3 linked regions of the Homo sapiens genome follow. The protein of the gene in region 1 purifies or fractionates together with the protein of each later gene. This does not show direct contact. Each region holds a gene or a part of one and is shown on either strand. Other genes may lie near its edges. The genes, in order: NAPA, VPS45 and BNIP1.

What was found.
Region 2: the proteins of NAPA (region 1) and VPS45 purify together in Homo sapiens (affinity purification with mass spectrometry; 3 studies listed by BioGRID and IntAct, with this or other methods). This does not show direct contact.
Region 3: the proteins of NAPA (region 1) and BNIP1 purify together in Homo sapiens (affinity purification with mass spectrometry; 3 studies listed by BioGRID and IntAct, with this or other methods). This does not show direct contact.

Annotation. Positions count from the first base shown.
Region 1 is NC_000019.10:47,504,920-47,508,571, reverse strand, and holds part of NAPA (alpha-soluble NSF attachment protein), read left to right. Parts: intron 1-3,652. UniProt on the Homo sapiens protein: Required for vesicular transport between the endoplasmic reticulum and the Golgi apparatus. Together with GNA12 promotes CDH5 localization to plasma membrane.
Region 2 is NC_000001.11:150,074,266-150,077,917, forward strand, and holds part of VPS45 (vacuolar protein sorting-associated protein 45), read left to right. Parts: intron 1-1,967; coding exon 1,968-2,047; intron 2,048-2,650; coding exon 2,651-2,719; intron 2,720-2,828; coding exon 2,829-2,966; intron 2,967-3,403; coding exon 3,404-3,514; intron 3,515-3,652. UniProt on the Homo sapiens protein: May play a role in vesicle-mediated protein trafficking from the Golgi stack through the trans-Golgi network.
Region 3 is NC_000005.10:173,147,379-173,151,030, forward strand, and holds part of BNIP1 (vesicle transport protein SEC20), read left to right. Parts: intron 1-3,652. UniProt on the Homo sapiens protein: As part of a SNARE complex may be involved in endoplasmic reticulum membranes fusion and be required for the maintenance of endoplasmic reticulum organization. Also plays a role in apoptosis.

The sequences.
Region 1 (3,652 bases):
CCTTGTCTTTGCCCAGACAGGCATGTCACAAGAGGGTCCTGTGGCGATTTCAGAGCTGGGCAGTTAGCCTGTGACACTTTATTCTTTCACCGTTGTTAACTGGGGCTTGTGGAGAGATGGGAAAGCAGAGCTGGGCTCAGGCCCCGCCCTGCAGGAACTCATACTCTGCTTGGTCAGGCAAGGCCCACTGCAGAGTGGCGGGAGGCAGCTGGTGGTTTCCCGCTTCCAGGTGATACTGGTGGCGGTGCCTTCAGGATGCTGAGCCTCTGGCAGCTCCCAGCTCCAGTGCAGTCAGTGGACTAGCAGGGCTGGTGGCCCCCGGCTCCCTGTGCCAGGGTGGACCCTGCACCACAGGCAGCCTTAACTTTTTCTGACGTTCCTTCTGCCTGTTGGCTTGTTACTGGCAGGCTCGGTAGGGGGCTGGCTTAATTCATACTCCTTTGCCTAGAGGATGCTCCACGCAGCCCCAGCAGAGAGCAGCCTCTGCTCGTGAGATGAGGGAAGCCTAGGCAGTACAGGCTCCCTGGCTTCTTTAATCTAGAGGAGGGGTGGGGGCAGGCAGGGACCTTGTCCTCCCTCCTTATTTTCCCAAGGAGCCTTGGGCATGGGGAAGGAAGCCTTCCTGATCACTGAGTGAGAGGCAAGGGCAGGACTGGATCCCCAGGGCCCCAGTCCTCTTTCCAAGCCCTGCTGCTTCCTGGCAGGGTAAGCTTGGACAAGCCCTCCGCCCTCTCTGAGCCCCAGCTTCCTCGCCTGTAAAGCAAGGGCAGCACCCAAAGGGCTCTCGTGAGGAGCTGTGGGCTCCTTCCAGGGGAGTGCCTGGGAGGCAGGGAACGCCATGCGCCAGCCGTGATTAAGGCACATGGTCTCGAGAGCCGTGCAGGAGGTGGGCTTACAGGGAAGACACAGGCATGTGACGGGCCCTAGGACACCTTCCCCACTGAGGGTGCTGACTGGAGACTTGGGGCAGTGGGCCTTAAGTCTGAGGAGGAAACCGTAGGCCTGTGGCTGTGGCTTCCACAGAGGCAAGAGAGATAGAGTGAGTCCAGGACCCGAAATGGGGGCCTGACTTTGTCCACCCTGCCTCGTGAGGTCCTTCGGGAGCTGCAGGTGGTGGGTCTCAGGGCATGGTGTATTTCTGGCAGCCAGGAAGTGCCTGGTGGATGGAGGAAGGAAGGAGGGGGCTAAGACTCTGCCCTGCACAACCCCCTGGCCCAGGTCCCATCAGGCATCTGTGTATTCCTGGCAGTGCCCAGCCTTCCATATGGCAGTCCCTGAGGTTGGTGGCTGTGTTTGGGAGACCTGAGACTCCTTCCTCCGCCTTGGAGGGGGAGAGAGCAAAGCTGAGCGGGTAATTATAGACAGCCCTGCATCAGGCAGCCCAAACCAGTTCCCTCTATTCCCGGAGTGGCTCAGAGCCGTGGGATGGGAGGAGTGAAGCAGAGGCAGCTTGGGGGAGGTCAGTGGGGGAGGGACAGTCAGCTGTCACATGCGCTGCCACCCAGGCCCTCAGGAGAGGAGGCCCAGCTAGATTTTCCTTTCGTGTACTGTTGTTATCTCCTGGCACGTAATAAATGCTCGGATACCTGTTCCCCAGGTGAATAAATGTGTATGTGAATGGCTTCTTCAGGATCTTCCACTGGAACCTAGGCACGTCACTTTCCCCCTTTGGGGACTTCACTCCCATTTCTAAAAGAAGAGGATGGGACCCTGGAGATCTCCTGTCATCCCCTGGCCATGGTAATGGGCAAGACCGCGGGGTGCAGGGGAAGAAGGAGGCAAGCCTGGGGCCTGAGCAGGTGTTAATCCCTCTGGCCTTTCCACCCCACAGAATCATTGACCCCGTGCAGGGTTGGCTGTGCTTAGCCTGGGATCACAGAGTTTCAGCCCGGGCAGCTGGTAGGCTTTGTGTCCGTCCTGAAATAAACCCGGCTGGGCTGACTCTGCTCATTGTTGATTGCCCGCTGTGGGCCACTCAGTGACGTGGGTCATTTCTGCCCATCCAGGGTCTGTGCTTTTTCAGAGAGTGCATGGAGCTGGATAGGACTTAGTCACACTCAAAAAGAAGGGAAGGCTGAGCTGGGGGACCTGTGGGGTGGGCAGACCTGTGATTAAGGTCTGAAAATGTCCCTTTAAGAGAACATTCCAGAGAAGGTCCTTCTGAGGGTTTTTTGCAGCCAGGCCCCAAAGGACCCTTCAGGATTCTCAGCCAGAAGGTTTTGAAAGTTTCTTACCTCTCCAAGGCCAGGAATGGGTTCTAAAGAAGTCATTCCAGGCTGGGCACGGTGGCTCATGCCTGTAATCCCAGCACTTTGGGAGGCCGAGGCGAGTGGACCACTTGAGGTCAGGAGTTCGAGACCAGCCTGGCCAACGTGGTGAAACCCTGTCTCTACTAATAATACAAAAATTAGTAGGGTGTGATGGCACACATCTGTAATCCCAGCTACTCAGGAGGCTGAGGCAGGAGAATTGCTTGAACCCGGGAGTTGGAGGTTGCAGTAAGCTGAGATCGTGCCACTGTACTCCAGCCTGGGCGACAAGAGCGAAACTCCATCTCAAAAAAAAAAAAAAAAAAAAGAAGTCACTCCAAACAAGGCCCAAGGTGTGTTGGGCTGGCTGAGGTGAGGTGGGTGAGGGAAGACAGAGTGCAGCAGGGCGAGTGCGGGAAGAACACATTGCTCAGGGCCACTTCCCAGGGACAGCAGAGGGTGGGGGACAGCATCAGCACAGCCCCAGAAGGCAGAGGGTAGGCTTTTCATCTGGCAAGATGACAGAGAGGATAGGAATAAATAGATTATTTACCTGGTGTGATGTGGATTCAGGAGGCCAGGATCCCTGGCCCAACCAGCCCGCCCACCGTGGGGGCATTTATTTGCCTGCTGACATTGCCAGGCCTGGCCGCTGATCTGATCGCTGGTGGCTGCTTTCCAGGTAGTCGGTCTCAGTCAATTTTTCCTTCTCAAACTCACCTGATCAGCTGAATTACCTGGGCCCCCCAAACCCCAATTGTTAAAAATCTCATTTGCAGGCCCCATCCAGACCCTACTGAGCGAATCCCAAAGTGTGTGGCTGTGGGACTCTGGTTTGATGAAATGAGCACTTCATGTGGCTGAAAGGGATGGGCAGGTTGGACACACTGAATCCGCAGTGCAGAGGGAAGGAATGCTCACATCCCAGCTCCCAAAATTACCTTTGAGCCCCTCCACAGCTGGGGTTGGTGTGGACAAGTTCCCAGGTATAATGTTGGGCCAGTTGACACAGGGTGTGGGATGGGATGGTGAGGATGATTTGAATGGGAAAGTACCCACTCCTCCCTTTTCTCTTCCTTAAAAATAAACTAAACACTAGTTATGCCAGTGAAGAGAGGCCCTGAAATCCATTTGGTGGGACTCCAGAGTGTGTGGATTTTATTCTACTGATTATGTAGATATTGGGAGTTTGAGCAGTTACAGAGACTACAGACCTCGCGGGCTAAGCCTGGTTGTATTATTAAGGGCAGAAGAATGCAGTGGGACTTACGGGTTTGAGGTACTAATGAGGTCCCCCAAGTCAAGAGGAGGCTCATTATGTACATGTGGAGGTCAAGAAGCCAGAGTGAAGCTGCCCAAACAGGGTACCCTTTATGTTTTCAAATTCCTGTCTATCTCCCAGT
Region 2 (3,652 bases), on another chromosome or scaffold:
GCCCGCTTCAGCCTCCCGAAGTACTGGGATTACAGGCATGAGCCACCACACCTCACCTGTTGTGTGTATTAATAGTTCATTCCTCCTTTGAGCTGGAACTGCAAAAAAAAAAGTTTTCTTAATTTAAAAATAGTTCATTTCTTTTTATTGCTGAGTAGTATTCCATGGTATGAATGTACCACAGTTTGTTTAACTATACACCATTGAAGGACATATGAGTTATTTCCAGTTTTGGCTATTACAAATAAAGCTGCTATAAATATCTGTGTACAGATTTTTATGTGAACATTAAGTCTTCATTCTCTGGGGTAAATAACCCCCAGGAGTGCAACTGCTGAGTCATATGGTAATTCCATGTGTGATCTGCCCACCTTGGCCTCCCAAAGTGATGGGATTACAGGTGTGAGCCACCGCACCGAACTTTTAAAGACATACAAAAGTAGAATAGTATCATAAGTTCCAATGTACCTATCAGCTGGTTTCAACAATTATTGAGCCTCACCCAATCTTGTTTTAGCTATACTGTCACCTACTTCTCCAGCAATATTATTTTAAAGCAAATCTAAGACATTATATAATTTTATCCATAAGTATTTCAGTAGGCATCTCTAAAAGATAAGGACTCATTTTTTTAAAAAACACATTTCCATTATTACATCTAGATTAAAAGTGAAAAATAATTATTTATTCTTTTTTTTTTTTTTTTTTTTTTTTGAGACACAGTCTCCCTCTGTCACCCAGACAGAGTGCAGTGGCATGATCTCGGCTCACTGTAACCTCAACTTCCCAGGTTCAAGTGATGTTGCCCAGGCTGGTCTTGAACTCTTAGTACCATTTTCAAATAACCATTCAGCGTTCAAATTTAAAATTGTCTTTTTTTTTTTTTTTTTTTACAGTTTTTTAAAATCAGGATCAAAGTAAGGTTCACACATTGCTGTTGGTTGATATGTTAAGTTTCTTAATCTTCTGTATAGGTCCTCCCACCCCTGCCCCTGCTGCCCCATGCAATTTATTTATTGAAGAAACTGTTAAGTTTTCCACAGACTGGATCTTGCTGATTGCATCCCCAGGGGGTAGTTTAACATGTTCCTTGAAGTTTAAAATATTCCTCTGTCTTCTAGTTCCTGTAAATTCATAGGTGAATACAGAGCCTTAATTAGGTTAAGATTTGATTTCTTCTTGGCAAGAATACTTTATAGGTGGTATTGTGTGCTTTCATTGGCTGCTTATTCTTTTGATATTAGTAGCTGCTGATGCTCAATGCCTGGGTCCATTCAATTGATTCATTGGGGGTTAGAAAAAATGATGATATTCTAATTCTGTCATTAACATTTGTTAGTTATTGTTGAGCTGGAATGTTTTCACAAAGAAAAATTTTCCCTCATCTATTTGGTTACCTGGTAGTACAGTTTATATATAAAAGACAGCATGAAAGTTTACTTCTTTCTCCTTATTTTCAATAAAATGACTTACTTCCCTAGTATTCTCATTCTCCAATTCCTCCGATGGAGTCTTCCTCTATCGCCCAGGCTGGAGTGCAGTGGCCTGATCTGGGCTCACTGCAAGCTCTGCCTCCTGGGTTCATGCCATTCTCCTGTCTCAGCCTCCCGAGTAGCTGGGACTACAGGCGTCCGCCACCACGCCCAGCTAATTTTTTTTTGTATTTTTAGTAGAGACGGGGTTTCACCGTGTTAGCCAGGATGGTCTCGATCTCCTGACCTCATGATCCACCTGCCTCAGCCTCCCAAAGTGCTGGGATTACAGGTGTGAGCCACCGCGCCTGGCCAGTCCTTTTAAAATATATATATATATATATATAAAATTATGAATTTGTGGATTAAATATATTTTTGCTACCCATTCCAATTTGAAGGTCACTTATTCATTAGGCTTTAACTATCAGGCCCTTTTACATATATTGCAGCAGAAATTATCTCCTTTGAGTCAACCCCAACTCATGTGTTTCAGATTTCAGTAATGTGATCAGCAAGAGTGACGTGAAGTCATTGGCTGAAGCTGATGAACAGGAAGTTGTGGCTGAGGTTCAGGTAAACATATTGGTCCTGTAACACATCTCGTATGTTGGCCCTTTTTAAATATTTGAGTCTAAAAATAAAAAATAAGGAAAGGTCTGTCTCAAAAGAAGTTTTATTATGAATACTTGAATATGTTTATCACATAAATGAGGAATATTGTTTTCAGAGGCAGCAAATAAACTAGTTTTGAATTTTTCAGAAGGATGTGATAGGTGATAAATGAATAAAAAGAATACCTGTTTTAAATTATATTCTCTCTCATGACAACACATTGGACAGCAAAGTTCTTTTTTATCTGAGTAGAACATTGTATCTCCTATTAGCAGTATTTTATTTTTACTAATTGATAAGTATGCATAGAGGTCTCCAGAAATATAATGTGTATAACCTTACAACCTTTATTTGTTAGATTTATTATTATTGCTACTGTTTTGTAATTATTTTAATTCTCCCACGTTGACTGTTGTTACCCAATTATTAATTGAACAATTTAGTATCTCTTTACACCTGTATTTCACAAAGTTTGGCTATATCATATTATATCACTTATGAAAATATTACTGCTTGATACAATTGAAGTTTATGGAATGACTATTCTTGGTGCTTTATTTGCAGGAATTTTATGGTGATTACATTGCTGTGAACCCACATTTGTTTTCCCTCAATATTTTGGGTTGCTGCCAGGTATGGAAGGAAAGGTTTAATTTATCAGTCGAGAGTTAATTCAGCAAATAATTAGACTTGTAAGAGAAAATTCAAATATTTTCTCTGAATATATGTTTTTAACAAAAAGGGTCGAAATTGGGATCCAGCCCAGCTATCTAGAACAACTCAAGGGCTTACAGCTCTCCTTTTATCTCTGAAGAAGTGTCCCATGATTCGTTATCAGCTCTCATCAGAGGCAGCAAAGAGACTTGCAGAGTGCGTTAAGGTATGGCATTACCTATTCCTGGTTCCAAAACATAAAGGCCATTCATTTCTCTATCATATTTCAGAAACTAAAGGAATAGTTTATTTACAACCAAGGAGATGATTGTATGTTAGGTTTCCGCGAAAAGAGGTAGGTATATGTAATTTAAAACAAAAAGCAACAATTAGAGCTAAGATTCTTAGGTTTAACCCAAGAAACATTCACAAGCTATTTAACTTTTTTTGGTCCAGTTAAACCACTTATAAAATAGGGTTTCATATCCTAACCTCTTAAATAGTATGCTACTAAACTTTGTGAGACTTTTGAATCCTTCATATGGAAGATCTATGTGGGTGCAAAGAACTATTGTTAAATGTAGTGTTTATTAATTTCCTATTTATATCATTTCTATATGTAACTAGATGGTTGCACAAACCATCTTTCTCTCTCACCCACAGCAAGTGATAACTAAAGAATATGAACTGTTTGAATTCCGTCGGACAGAGGTTCCTCCATTGCTCCTTATTTTAGATCGCTGTGATGATGCCATCACCCCATTGCTAAACCAGGTACAAAACCCTTTCTTGGCATAATAGAAGGATAATTTTAAGTGATATTCATCAAAATACAGATAGGGAAGTAAAAACATGGTCCATTTATTTGCCTCCTTATTTTTAGCTATTCTTGGTTTTGCTTTGTATTTCCTG
Region 3 (3,652 bases), on another chromosome or scaffold:
TGGGCGACAGAGCGAGACTCTGTCTCAAAAAAAAAAACAAGAAACTTTTGCATGCAGAACACTGCCAGCTGTGTGAACGAGTGAATGGCAGGAACACCATTATCCTTGGAATTTTTGAAATCCTGGGGCCACTTCAAATACTTTCTCTTCTCTGCCATTCTTTCTACCCTATTCATTCATTCACTACCTCAATCCATCACACTCCTGGGTTTTTTTTTATGCTGTTACTTTGCTCAGCATCTTCCTTATTTCAATAGTCACCAGTCACATCATATACACATTTAGTATGCCTGAATTCAAGTATGGTATATGTGCTGTCTCAAAAAACACTAGAGGGTGACAAGTAGCAGTTATGTTTGTTTGTTTTATTTATTTCACATTTTATTCTTATTACATTGGGCTGGGCAAAGAGTTGTGCACCACTGTATAGATCATGTTATTCTGTTGCTTTCATTTTTAAAAATGAAAATGAGGCCAGTAGTTTGAGAACAGCCTGGCCAACATGGCAAAACCCTGTCTCTGATAAATGCAAAAATTAGCTGGGCATGGTGGCACACACCTGTAATCTCAGCTACTTAGGAGGCTGAGGCAGGAGAATCGCTTGAACCCAGGAGGTGCAGGTTGCAGTGAGCAGAGATCGTGCCACTGCACTCTAGCCTTGGTGACAGAGCAAGACTCTGTGTCAAAAAAAAAAAAAAAAAAAAAATATATATATATATATATATATATATATATATATATATATATATATATATATATTTTAATAGAGATGGATTTTTTGCTCTATGTTGCTTGAGCTGGTCTTAAACTCCTGGGCTCAAGCAATCCTCCTGCCTCAGCCTCTGAAAGTGCTGGGGTTACAGGCATGAGCCCAGACTATTGTGTTGCTTTCAGACAGAATTGGGATTCAGCTTCTAATTGTTTCCAAGTTCAGAATCTAGATCAGAATCAGAGGATGAAGACCACTTGTGGGTCTGGGGGCTGCTGAGAGGAAACACGTATGGAGCTGACTATGGAGGGGTCATGTTTCAAGGCTGCCATCTGGGCATCCAAGGATCCTGCATGCAGCTCATGGGTAGAGGGGCCCACAGCAGCCCCTCAAAGTGAATAGGGATGGCACAGGCCCAGGGCTGGAACTCAGGAGTTGGAAGGATGACTGCATCTGCACACTTAAAAAGATGCTGTCCATCTGTATCCTGGAATCCTGTGTAGGCCCTCTCCCTGAGGACAGGAACAGGGTTGGCTCCTTGGCCTCTGTTTAGCCTCATGAGTAGTTCAGTAAAAGTCCTGCAAACTTGTCATTATCTGGAGACATTCCTGCCGGCTCCTCTTCATGCCCCTCTACTTGAAGCACTAGGCAGTTGCTTTATATTGTTCATGATTCTTCTTCAGTTATTCAAATTTGAGATAATTGCATTCTTTTAGGGAACTCTGGATCTCCTGGTCACTCCAAGGGTTGATTACTGTTCTGATGGTTTTTCTGGTTTCTTGGTTTCTTCTTCCTTCTTTATTTCCTGAGGGTTTCTAGTAATTTCAGTCTGATGTCTTACGTTCTCCATTTTTATTCCTGAGTTTTCTCCTGGAATTCTTCTCACTGCAGCCACAGGACCTAATGTTGGGTTGGCAGAGAACTAGCACTTACTCTGCCCTAGTGGGACCTAGGAGAGTCAGGAGGTACCTGAGTGTGGAAACATGCCTGCTCCTCTAGACTTCTGGAGGTCTCTTAGAAGTAGCAGTTTGAATAGTGGAGATGTTTCCCCTGCTGTACCTTCAGTGAGGGTGAGGTGGGTGTCATGGATCTGCCCATCTGTATTAGTCTGTTTTCATGCAGCTGATAAAGACATACGTGAGACTGGGAAGAAAAAGAAGTTTAATGGACTTCTGACATGGCTGGGGAGGCCTCACAATCATGGCAGAAGGCAAAGAGGAGCAAGTCACGTCTTATATGGATGGCAGCAGGCAAAGAGAGAGCTTGTGCAGGGAAACTCCTGTTTTTAAAACCATCAGATCTCATGAGACTCATTCACTATCATGAGAAAAGTGCAGGAAAGACCCACCTCTGTAATTCAATCATCTCCCACCAGGTACCTCCCATGACATATTGTGAGAGTTACAATTCAAGATGAGATTTGGGTGGGGACACAGCCAAACCATATCACCATCCCTGGATGGGTCTTGTGGCACCTGGTCTTGTGGTATTGGGGTTTTGTATTAGGCCTTTCTTGCATTGCTGTAAAGAAATACCTGAGGCTGGGTAATTTATTTAAAAAAATGGGTTTAATTGGCTTAAGGTTCTGCAGGCTGTATGGGAAGCATAGCAGTATCTGCTTCTGGGGAGGCTTCAGGAAGCTTCCAGTCATGGCAGAAGGCAAAGGGAGCAGGCATGTCACATGACAAAAGCAGGAGCAAGAGAGAGATTGAGTGAGAGCTCACTTACCACTAAGGGGATGACTTATGCCATTCATTAGGGATCCACCCCCATGATCCAAACACCTCCCACCAGGCCCCACCTCCAACACTGGGGATTACCATTCAACATGAGATTTGGGCAGGGACAAATATTCAGACTATATCAGGTCTAAAGACTTGAGCTTTTTTGGCCAGCACAGTGGCTCACGCCTGTAATCCCAGCACTTTGGGAGGCCAAGGCGAGTGGATCGCCTGAGGCCAGGAGTTCAAGACCAGCCTAGTCAACATGGTCAACCTCCATCTCTACTAAAAGTATAAAAATTAGCTGGGTATGGTGACCCGTGCCTGTAATCCCAGCTGTTTGGGTGGCTGAGGCATGAGAATTGCTTGAACCTGGGAGTTGGAGGTTGCATTGAGCCAAGATTGTGCCACTGCACTCCAGCCTGGGTGACGGAGCAAGACCCTGTCTCAAAAAAAAAAAAAAAAAAGACTTGTGCTTTTCATATAACATGGCCCCCAAAGCCCACCAGCAACTCTGTTGTTGCTTAACAGAGGAAGACAGTCTGTTCTAAAGCTGGTAGAAAAGCTGGCCAGTTGGACCCCTGAGAAACAGTATGTCTGTGTCCTGTGTTTGCCTACCTCAGAGATTTTCAAGGGCAATTTTGAAAATGTGTAATTTTTGCTATTGGAGTTAACTATATGATTTTCAGCAGCGTCACCATACCTAGCTGATCTCTTCCTGCCTTCATCTCCAGTACTGATTTAATCATCTTAATTTTTTATTTTTGAAAAGATGTTCCTTTTACATGTTTTATGTATGTGTCTGTCTATAAGTATCAACATTCAGTGAAAAGTCTCAGTTATGCCCCAGTTTTGTTTTTTGTTCCACTCTTCCAAACAGGTAACCACTTTTGTTACTGATATGTCATTCCAGAGTTTCTCTACTCAAATATTTAAAAAGACAAATTTCTTTTTTTTTAAAATTTCTTCCTTGTTTCTCATCTAAAAAGTAGCATACTAACACACAGCTTTTAAAAACTTTATACTTTTGTTTTTTTGTTTTTTTTTAAGACGGAGTCTGGCTCTGTTTCCCAGGCTGGAGTGCAGGTGTGATCTCTGCTCACTGCAACCTCCACCTCCTGGGTTCAAGCGATTCTCCTGCCTCAGCCTCCCAAGTAGCTGGGATTACAGGTGTGTGCCACCACACACAGCTAATTTTTCGTATTTTTAGTACAGACGGAGT